Homo sapiens: one gene and its partners. The protein of the gene in region 3 interacts with the protein of the main gene of each other region in a pairwise test. Each region holds a gene or a part of one and is shown on either strand. Other genes may lie near its edges.

Region 1 (3,612 bases), on a different chromosome or scaffold from region 3:
TTAATGATAGAGCCAAGATGGGTATGTAGCTGTTCAACTTTTCTGTGTTTGAAATTTACATACAATGTTAGGAGAAAACCAAAATTGGGTAAAATTTTGGAGCCAAAATGCACATTAGAGATCAATTTGTGGGTGATAAAATTGAGGCAGAAAAGGCAACTAGGAGCGGAAGCAGGACTAGAACCAAGGCTGCCTGCGTCCTAGTTCCCAAGCTGTGTGTGGTCCACTTCACCACACTGCCTCCCAAGACCACTGGGCTCGTGGCCAGGCATGAATAATGTCTCCGAAAACCTGACAAGTGCTGTGGAACTTTAATTATATGAGACTTAAATGGGCGTTGCATGAAAAGAAAAAAAGAAAAAAAAAAGGTCAGATAGGATTGGGGGGATACTGGTTTAAACAGGTTTATCTACTGCAGGACATGTCAGAGCCTTTAATGTGCCAAAGTCTATTGAAAATCTCTGAGAGAAATATACAGCATTTCTGAAAGAACCGGACCACAGATGCTAACACCCATCCCCATCCTTTCTTTTTTAATGGCTAAGTTCTGGATAGCACACTCGGAAAAGACAGCCCTAAAGAAGATAAGGGCACTGTGTGTGTGTGTGTGTGTGAGAGAGAGAGAGAGTGTGAGGAGGGAGGAAGTGATACATGCTCTTTCTACTGCATTTTATTTCCATAGTGAGTCCACACACGCACAAATTAGACCTTGTTCCTTCGTCACATCTCCTGAGGGCGAAGGTACCCTCATGTCAAATGGCAGTACTGGGCATTTCAGGGGCTCGGTTAGCCAAAGGGGAGGTTCCGGGAGGCTTGAACCCAGGCCCTTCCCTCAGTGGTACCCTGGAAGGGTCACTGCCCCTGCCAGCCCAAGGGTCATTTTCCTCCATTGGTGCCCATTTTTGTGCTCAGGCAACAGGAGTCACTTAAACATGATCTTCCAAGGAACGTGTACGGTTCCAGCAAACAATAGAATCCGAAGAAGAAAAAGACTCTGTTCTTCACTTACATTTGGCCAAGTGAAGAGACAACCAACTCTCCCTGTGTCTGTTTTTCAGGGCAGTGAAGTATATTTTTGGAGCTGGTCAGGACACAAACCAATCTTACAGGCACGAACAAAATGCAGCATTCCCCAAATGCAGCCAAAACCCTTTACTGGAGCCACCTTCCTAACGCCAGTGGTCACTGGTCACTTTCCTGAGTGCGCGTGGAGAGGTTGGCCCCGGGTGGGAACCGCGTGCTGGTTTATGTTGTTACAGTACAAGTGAACGCAAAGACTTGCAGTAGCTGCCTCTTGGCAAATGATCTTCCCCCACGCCCAGGCATGGGGGCATCATGGTGGGGCTGGGGGAGAGCGAAGGGCCATTGTGCTTCTGTGGCTGGGCCGTCTTTTCTTTCTGGCTTCCCTACACCGTGTGCTCCATCATGGGGTATGGAGCAGTCCCTAAAGAGAAAGAGCTCGCCAGCAGCCCCTGTGAAGAAGTCCCCCGGGGACCAGTCTGGCCCACCACCCCCTGCCCTGCCACCGCTGTTGCCCCACCTGGCTTTAGACCTCCTTCCGCAGCACCACCTTGATGCTGCTGCAGACCTGGCCCAGGGCCGCGAAGAGTGGGTTGCAGAAGGTGCGGATGCAGAGTGAGTAGATGTGGCTGATGCACTGGATCTCGATCAGGTAGCTCTTAATGCATGGCACCACCGCCCAGATGTGGCAGAAGGAGATGCAGGCGAACAGGAAGCCCCAGAGCAGGGCCAGTGGGACGCCCAGCAGCGTGGACAACAGACGGTAGCACCAGTACTTGGAGACAGTGAAGGTGGTGTAGCTCACCTTCCACACGCCGTCAAAGCTGTAGGTGCCCACAGGCTCTGCGATCACGTCTTCAAAATCCACCTGCAGGGGTGGCAAGGGGAAGCCTCAACTCACAGAAGCCACCCGCTTCTCAAGCTTTTGGGTGTGTGCGTGCATGTGTCAGAATCCCCTAGAGGTCAGGTTAACCTTGGTGGCTGGACCCTACCTGTATTAGGCTATTCTTGCATTGCTTTAAAGACATACCTGAGGCTGGGTAATTGATAAAGAAAGGAGGTTTAATTGGCCCATGGGTCTGTGATCTGTGCAGGAATCATGGTGCTGGCATCTGCTTGGCTTCAGGTGAGGCCGCAGGGAGCTTTCAACCATGGCTAGAGAAGGGAGAGCAGGCGTCTCCCCTGGTGAGAGTGGGAGCAAGAGAGAGAGCTGGGCAGGGGGTGGAGTGCCACACTTTACAACAACCAGATCTTATGAGAACTCTCCCACTATTGTGAGGACAGCACTAAGCCACGAGGGATCTGCCTCTGTGATCCGATCACCTCCCACCCGGCCCCACCTCCAATATTGGAGATTATGTTTCACCATGAGGTTTAGAGGGGACACAGATCCAGACCATATCATCGCCCCAGGGATTCCGACTCCCCAAGTCTGGAGTGGGGCCTAAGGCTCTGTATTTCTAACAAGCTCCCTGTTGAGCCCAAGCTGCTGCTGTTCCTAGGCACCGCTGACCAACACAACACGCTCGTTCAACCCCCTCAAGGTGAGCGACTTGCTTAAAGCCAACAGTGACTTAGTGGCAGTGCTATAGTCGCAGCTCTCAAATTCTATTGTTTTATGATCTGAAGGGTGTTGGACGGTCGTATGCATCCTACAGCAATTTACTGAGCACCTGTGGATTGGATGGTGAACAGGCAGAGGTTCCTCACATCGCTTACCTAAGCTCTCTCGAGCCCTGCTATGCATGAAGCACCTTCCTAGCTGCCTACACATGGGTGATGTCACTTAGCATCACTAAGCCTCAGCTGTCTTGTCTGTAAGATGGAGTCAATGAACGTCTTCCAGTGGTATCATGAGGATGAAAGGATGGGAGGCTGTAAAATCCACTGGTCCACAGTGAAACCCTGTCTCTACTAAAAATACAAAAAAAAAAAAAAAAAAAAAAAATTAGCCGGGTATGGCAGCGGGTGTCTGTAGTCCCAGCTACTTGGGAGGCTGAGGAAGGAGAACGGCATAAACCCGGGAGGCGGGGCTTGCAGTGAGCCGAGATTGTGCCACTGCACTCCAGCCTGGGTGACAGAGCGAGACTCCATCTCAAAAAAAAAAAAAAAAAAAAATTCCACTGGTCAATTAAACAGCAGTGAACCAAATTAGCTGCTTCATGACTGGTCTCCCCATGGTTGTTACCAGTACAGCCCGCCAAGTGGGAGGTTGCAGAGCTGTTTGCTAATGCCTGAAACTGTTCTGAGATGTTTTCTTTCTAGCAGTGCTCCTGGGCCATTCAAATTAAAAGGGGGTGGATGCAGGTACAGACTAATCAGATCAACAGGAGGGGCCTGTGTGGTGGCCTGCAGGGCTGAGGCTCCAACTTCAATCTTCCTGGTTAGTTAGTCCCTTTCCCGCCTTGGTTATGGGGAGGGGATCCTCTCCTCTATTGCATCACCAATATTAAAATTACTTTCATTATAAAAAAAATGGCCATATCACAGAGAATTAACAGAATAGAAAAAAGAAAAGAGTCTTGGGTTTGTACTTCTCTATTACTAAAGATATGATTGTTTTGGTGCATTTCTTTCCAGTACAATATTTTC
Region 2 (3,655 bases), on a different chromosome or scaffold from region 3:
TATTTTTCACAGAAACTAATTATTGCATATGGTACATCATTTAAGCAAAATAATATAGAACTTCTCGAGTAGCAGATTTCATTTAGCATTTTAACAATTCTAAGTGTGTGCTAATGTGTATTTCAAACAGCAATTTCGTAAAGTTTCTCATACATATAGCTATCTGACCAGATTACAAATTACCTGCTCCAAAGTTTATAAAAGGAAAGCAAGAATAAACATTTTACTGTATCAAATTTAAATTCAAAGTGTATTTTTGTTTTTCACAACACATTCAAAGATAGAGCACTATCCTGGGTGTGGCATAAAAATACTTCATTTAAAATTTAACATTATATATATTAAATCCATGATTATTAAAAGTCAACTATCTGGTATAATTAATTATATAAAATAGGCCATAATAAAAAATGAAGATGTTGATCTTAAGTATTTAAGTACATGTACATGCATGGGAATATGCACAAACACACAATCCTATAAGAAAATATTCCAGAGAATTAATGTTCATCTTGAGGTGAAAGGATTATTGATAATATATTATGCTTCCCTGCATTTTCTTCAATGAACACATATTATTTTATTAATGAAGAAAAAGATTAATGAGGAAATGTGTATAGAAACAAATTATCTTGGAAAGATAATTTGTCATCAAGTACCTATCAAGTTCACCCAGCAATTCTTCCTGTCTCTCTAGTTCTTCAAGTCGAGCCCACAGTTCTTTATCAGCTAGCAAATCCTTGGATTTCACATCATTTGCAATATCTGCTTCAAAAATATCTGAAGTTTTTGGTTTGGAATGCGGTTTATGAGCAATTCGGTGTTTTGCTATTTAGAAAAAGGAAAAGACGTGGCTGTTAATAGCCAACATAAAAAAGGCACAAACCCAGACTTAATGAGACTTTCTTTTGGGGCAAGGGAAATATTGAAACAGAGGGGTCACAATTTTTAAGCCAAACAGAACTCCAAGGATGAATGTCTCTTACAGCCTTGCTACTCAAAGTGTGGTCCATGGATCAACAGCACTGGCGTCCTTGGGGAACACTTCAGAAGTGTAAGCTCTAAGGACACCCTAGACCCACTGAATCAGAATCTGTATTTCAACAAGAGCCCCAGAGAACCTGCATACACATTCAAGGTTGTGAGAAGAGCTTCAAAAATGCATAAGAAATGGCCACAATGCACCCTGGTTATAAGGCGAAATGCAACACATAAATGATAAATTTCCATTTACCATCCTTACTCAAGGAAATCTAGTTACTACAGTAACGTGCAAAAGCCTTGTGACAGGATACTTTAAACTCCAGGGCACTGCCAAGGAATGAGTACCCTACAAGGAAACAACGGCGGCTCATCTCTGTAAAGTTCTATTATCATTTTACATATGAACATCTCTACTTTTTAAACTGCTTCATTTGTAATCTTCATGTGAGGAAAAAAGATGGGTCAAATCTGAACTCAGAGGTATCTGCTTTTCATTTTAAAAAATAGATTATTTTTTAATAAAGCAAATTAAGGCTTTATTTGCTTTATTAAAGCAAAGTAATGGGAAAGTAATGGGAAGAAGTCTAAGATGCGTCCTGTTATGAGATATGGCACTACCAGATGACCTCGAGTCCATCATATATTCAAATTTGCTGCATTGTTGCATACATCTGAAAATATCAAATTATGTTTCACAGCCTTATTCTCTGTAACTATTATTGATAAGACAGTAGTTAACAATTTTTATTTCAGACCTGTAGCGCTCATAATTTGTCACTGGTCACCACAAACAAAAATCTTGTCTTTCTGTTCAACTTTAATATACATATCCTTTATTTCACCTTCTAAAGCCACTTCCTGTTACTTGTGATGTGGCTTCTTTCAACCAGTAAGTTATCTTAAGAGTTCATCACCAAAATATGAGTGCTGAAAGTCAAAACGAATGCTCAGTACATTTGTTTAAGACACTGTACAGTCTTCTACAGTAGCAAATAATAAGCCATCTGTAATACTTTTTACAATTTCACTACCGTTAACACTTTACAACTGACGAAGGAACCATTGGCTTTACAGAAGTAAACCCAAACACATAAGCCAGCCTTGGCAAAAGAAATCTACTGGGTGGAGATGGGAACAACCTGCGCAGGGAAAGCCACTGCAGGCACCATAAGAGGAATGGCTGAAATACACCCACATTCATTCATTCTTCCAAAAACAGCTTACAAAGCTGCAGTTTTAAAAGAAGAAAAACTAGCAAAAGATATCTTAGGACTTCACCATGGTCAGAGAACAAATTAGGAGCAGATCCATGTCTAGAATATACATCTTCTGAGTTTTAGAGGTTTGGAGCACTGGAGAACTTTGGGAGAAAAAAGCCATGTAATCCCACCACTAAAACAGACCAGTCAGGAATCACATTTTTAACCAAAAGTTATTTATCCATTAATGTTTCACATAAAAAAAAATCAATGAGTAGAAAAATGTTGGCATCCTATGAATTTAAAAGTGTATTCTAAATCCCAAATATCTCACAGAAAGCCCACTGAAAATCAACAAAAATCAAAATATCTAAACAGCTACACATAAAACAATCTTACTGCTTACCTTTAAATTCGAAGTCACATTTAATTTCTTCTCGTATGTCAACAATATCACCTGCAGCCTGGTTTTTAAACAAAAAAAAAGCGTATTAACAACACAAATCTCCAGCATACTAAAATTATCCAAAGAGCAACTATTCAACCTAAGATGTCTGAAAGCATTTTAAACTTCAATTAATTTGTTCCTTGGCTGTAAGATAGCTTCATATTTCTTTGAAAATATTTTCTAAAAATATAGAAGACTAAAAACAAATACTCACATCGCTCATTTTCTGCAAATCTTCTGTGAATTCAACTCTGGATTCAAAATTTTTCATCACTTTTTTTAAGTCATCTATTGTTTTTCTTACATCTGAAACAATGAACACAACCATTATGTAAAGCATGGCATATATACGACCTGTAGGAATATTTTAACTGTAGTCCTATCACACTACAAGTATGATTTAACAGTAATGCTTTTCAAAAATCTTACACTATTTTCCTTTTAAATGGACTTTTAATAAGTTATACTGTGTATTTTTGTGCTATATATATAGCACATTACTTTGTTCGTAATAAAATGTCTAACATATTTTCTCTCTATTACAGAGTACAGAACTAGATTGTAGATGCTGCCTGGTGCTACCAGGTTTCTATAGGATAAATATCTAGTTGGATCATCACATAAAATGCAGTATTTCATAACAGTTTTGTTGCACAGGTAATTTTTGTCCAGCTGGATAATGCATAGATAACATAGATTAAGACAAGTTATTCTGTTCCTGAACAGAAAATATTCCTAAATTAGATGACTGAAAATACAACACATTTTTTACGGTATATAATCAACCATTTCCAAGTTAAACTGCATAACAACACAACACACAGCCTTTCAACATCTCCTAAATACCACCCTCTATTAACCTATTTGAGGAAAAATTTTAATTTGAGAATAGACACAAACATTTCTCTACCCAATACTGGACAAATGCAACAAGTAATTCATGTTTCTGTAATCAGAGTAGAAATCTCTGCTAAGCAGTAAATGGCACCATCTAAAAAATACATGGGGTTTCTAACTATAATTA
Region 3 (3,655 bases):
TAGGTGAGATGTTTTTATTTATCGCAACTGCTGCATTAATTGCCTAGGACCTCAACAGCTTCATGAAAGTCTGGGAAATGTTCATGCATAAGGTTATTGCCTTAGCTGACTTAAAATTGCCCCATACAATGGTACATATCAACCCTTAGTGAAGCCTTTTAAAAAACAAACAGGTTGAAAAATGGGTTAAAGTAGGCAAATACAGCATATCTGCCTTTAGAGCTATCAACTCAGGAATTCTCTCAATTATGAAATCTTGCAGAGAAGTTATTTTTCTTTCTCAAAATCCAGGTGATGACAATATTCCTTACTCCAGATCTGGCATTTCTGAAAGAATTTTTAAAAATATTAGTATATAGTACAAGTGAATAATCTACCAATTTTACTGTCTTAAAGGAAAAGCAACCAAAAATCGAAATACATAGTTGCCCAATGAATTAATAGGTTGTCTTGCTATCAAGTTATTCACATTTCTGCTTTGGTTATTTATTCAAGGTCATAAAGAAAAAATTACTTTACTTCCAAAGAAGTTAACATCTCTATTTTGAGTTTGTTTTTTGATGCAAAGTATCACTGTATAAACATACTTTTTATATACACTTACTTTCATCATCACTGTCTTGTGAATCCTGAAAGAGGGAAAATAAAGTTACCGAGCTGATCAAATATTCGTTTGCTAACTGAACAGTTTACCTAAAAAAGTTCAAGTGCTATATTTTTGACTAAAGTAGCACAGGTAGGTAGTCATATCAAGCCTAGAAATTTAGTCATTGGACTTGACTAGGTTTACCTAAGGTGAATGGATGTACAGCAGAGGATTTATCTACCTATAAAAAATGATGTGTGCCTTTTGGTGACAATTTAGCCCACCCGTTGAATCCATTCCTAAATTAACCTATCTCGGCATTCAAAGAGAAAACATGGATCAATATGAAGAAAAATGGACTGATAGAAGACAGTGAACTCTAATCCTAGCTGTTGAGTGAATATTAAGTGTTTTTCTAAATAGCATTAAATAACTTTCTGGGAGATGTTAACAGGATGCTGGGGTTGGAAAGATGTTGAGAAAAGTAGTTTAGTGTATCTTCCTCTTACAGATTTCCAATGTCCATCTTTTTTTTTTTTTTTTTTTTGGGTGGGGGGAGATGGAGTCTTGCTCTGTCACCCAGGCTACAGTGCAGTGGCGAGATCCGGCTCACTGCAACCTCTGCCTCCCGGGTTCAAGCGATTCTCCTGCCTCAGCCTCCCAAGTAGCTGGGATTACAGGCACCCGCCACCATGCCCGGCTAATTTTTGTATTTTTAGTAGAGATGGGGTTTCGCCATCTTGGCCAGGCTGGCCTGAAACTCTTGACCGCATGATCCACCCATCTCCGCCTCCCAATGTCCATCTGTTTTATCGGTCTCTGACCAATCCTGACATAAAACCTATTTAACTTACTTTCTTAGTCAAAATCATACCTATAAACTGACTCTCTTCTTTCTTTTTGAGATGGAGCCTCGCTCTGCTGCCCACACTGGAGTGCAATGGTGTGATCTTGGCTCACTGCAACCTCCGCCTCCCAGGTTCAAGCGATTCTCCCACCTCAGCTCACCAGTAGCTGGGATTACAGGCACCTGCCATCATGTCTGGCTAAGTTTTTAAGACAGGGTTTCACCATGTTGGCCAGGCTGGTCTCGAACTCCTGACCTCACGTACTCTGCCCACCTGGCCTGCTGGGATAACAGACATGAGCCACCTCGCCCGGCCTAAACTGACTGTTATAATTGAGTACGGTATTAATATATAATGTCTCTATACAATGATTCTTTGGAAATCTAATCCATTTAGGAATGGTCTACGGTACAACCAGTTCCCTAATAGATACCCCCATTCGTCAAAAATGGGCACATTTTAAAAATTGCTTTTCCCTTTTCTTTTTTTTTAGAAAATAAGAAGTAATTGTGAATCTATATAAAACCATTTGTAAATATGTTGTTTCTTACTATTTAATAGTATGAAAGTAAACAGAAAAAAGAATTTTTAGACTTACATCATCTGCTCCATCTACTTCTGGTAAATCTACATCCTCATCACCACCCATGTTGTTCATCATCTATTTGAAGTGTAAAAATTAGTTTTAAAAATGATGTTAAGTTAGGCCCTAATTATTAATGCTGTATGCTTCAGAATAAACCTTAAGTCTGCCACAGATATCAAAAAATGCAAAATGCAAATATAAGCATCTTTCCCTTCTGGAAAAGGAAGATTATAGGTAATTATACAAAATCCTAAAAACCCATATGGAAATTAAAACTAAATTTTCCCTAAAGAAAAGCAAAGCTATTCATGCAACAGGTTTGACAAACATTAAAAATTCTACTTGAGTAGTGGTTACCTCTGGTGGTTAAGGAAAAGAATGGGATTCATTTGTAGTTGCACAGCTATCTATCTTAAGTTAGGTGGAACATGTATTAAGGTATTCTTTTTTTTTTGAGACAGAGTCTAGCTTTGTCGTCCAAGCTGGAGTATGGTGGCGTGATCTCAGCTCACTGCAACCTCCGCCTCTGGGTTCACGCAATTCTCATGCCTCGGCCTCCAGGGTAGCTGGGATTACAGGCGCGTACCACCACACCCAACTAATTTTTTGTATTTTGGTACACACGGGGTTTCACCATGTTGCCCAGGCTGGTCTCGAATTCCTGGGCTGTAGTGATCCACCCACCTTGGCCTCCCAAAGTGCTGGGATTACAGGCGTGAACCACCATGCCAAGCCTTTTTTATTTTGAGATGGAGTCTTGCTCTGTTGCCCAGGTTGGAGTGCAGCAGCACAATCTCGGCTCACTGCAACTTCCGCTTCCCGGGTTCAAGGGAGTCTCCTGCCTCAGCTTCCTGAGTAGCTGGGATTACAGGCAGATGCCACCACGCCCAGTTAGTTTTTGTATCTTTGGTAGAGACAGGGTTTTACCATATTGGCCAGGCTGGTCTTGAACTCCTGGCCTCAAGTGATCCCCTTGCCTCGGCCTCCCAAAGTGCTGGGATTACAGGAGCAAGCCACTGTGCCAGGCCTGGTATTCTCATCATGGTTTTAGATATTGTGAAGAACCAAGAAATGATTTAAACTTAAACTATTATCAGATGATGAGAAACTTATTTTCTCAAGTTTAAACCATTTTTGTAATGTTTAAATTTTAGAAAAATAAAATCACATATGCATGGAAAAAAAATCAAACTTCAAAAATACATGATTACCCAGATTTTAGAATGGGAAAGGACCTTAAAAAGATAGTCAAACATACAATGGAATGTGTTCAGCCTAAAAGTATCATTCAGCCTTAAAGAAAAAAATCTGCCTTATGTGACAAAACACAATGAAGAATCTGAAGCACGTCATGCTATGTGAAATAAGCCAGTCACAGGACAAATACTGCATGATTCCACTTATATGAGATACCTAAGATTATGTAAGATACCTAAGATAGTCAGACACACAAAAATAGAGAGTAGAATGGTAGATGCCAGGAGCTGGGGGGAAGGAAAATGCAGAGTTGCTACTGTTAAATAGGTATCAAATTCCAATTACACAAAATGCATAGTTCCAGAGACCTACTACTGTACAGCATTATGCCTATAGTTAACAATACTGTATCATGCACTTAAAAGATAGCTGGGCGTG

The links.
Region 1: the proteins of PTGES3 (region 3) and CAV3 interact in a two-hybrid assay, tested with the Homo sapiens proteins (one large-scale study listed by BioGRID and IntAct).
Region 2: the proteins of PTGES3 (region 3) and URI1 interact in binary tests that used the Homo sapiens proteins (3 or more experiments, as listed by UniProt).

The regions. Positions count from the first base shown.
Region 1 is NC_000003.12:8,743,802-8,747,413, reverse strand, and holds the end of CAV3 (caveolin-3), read right to left. Parts: intron 1,889-3,612; coding exon 1,547-1,888; 3' UTR 656-1,546; downstream 1-655. UniProt on the Homo sapiens protein: May act as a scaffolding protein within caveolar membranes. Interacts directly with G-protein alpha subunits and can functionally regulate their activity. May also regulate voltage-gated potassium channels.
Region 2 is NC_000019.10:30,004,643-30,008,297, reverse strand, and holds part of URI1 (unconventional prefoldin RPB5 interactor 1), read right to left. Parts: intron 2,938-3,655; coding exon 2,846-2,937; intron 2,648-2,845; coding exon 2,590-2,647; intron 829-2,589; coding exon 660-828; intron 1-659. UniProt on the Homo sapiens protein: Involved in gene transcription regulation. Acts as a transcriptional repressor in concert with the corepressor UXT to regulate androgen receptor (AR) transcription.
Region 3 is NC_000012.12:56,664,172-56,667,826, forward strand, and holds part of PTGES3 (prostaglandin E synthase 3), read right to left. Parts: intron 2,096-3,655; coding exon 2,033-2,095; coding exon of another isoform or gene 1,985-2,032; exon of another isoform or gene 636-1,984; intron 630-635; coding exon 605-629; intron 328-604; coding exon 308-327; 3' UTR 1-307. UniProt on the Homo sapiens protein: Cytosolic prostaglandin synthase that catalyzes the oxidoreduction of prostaglandin endoperoxide H2 (PGH2) to prostaglandin E2 (PGE2).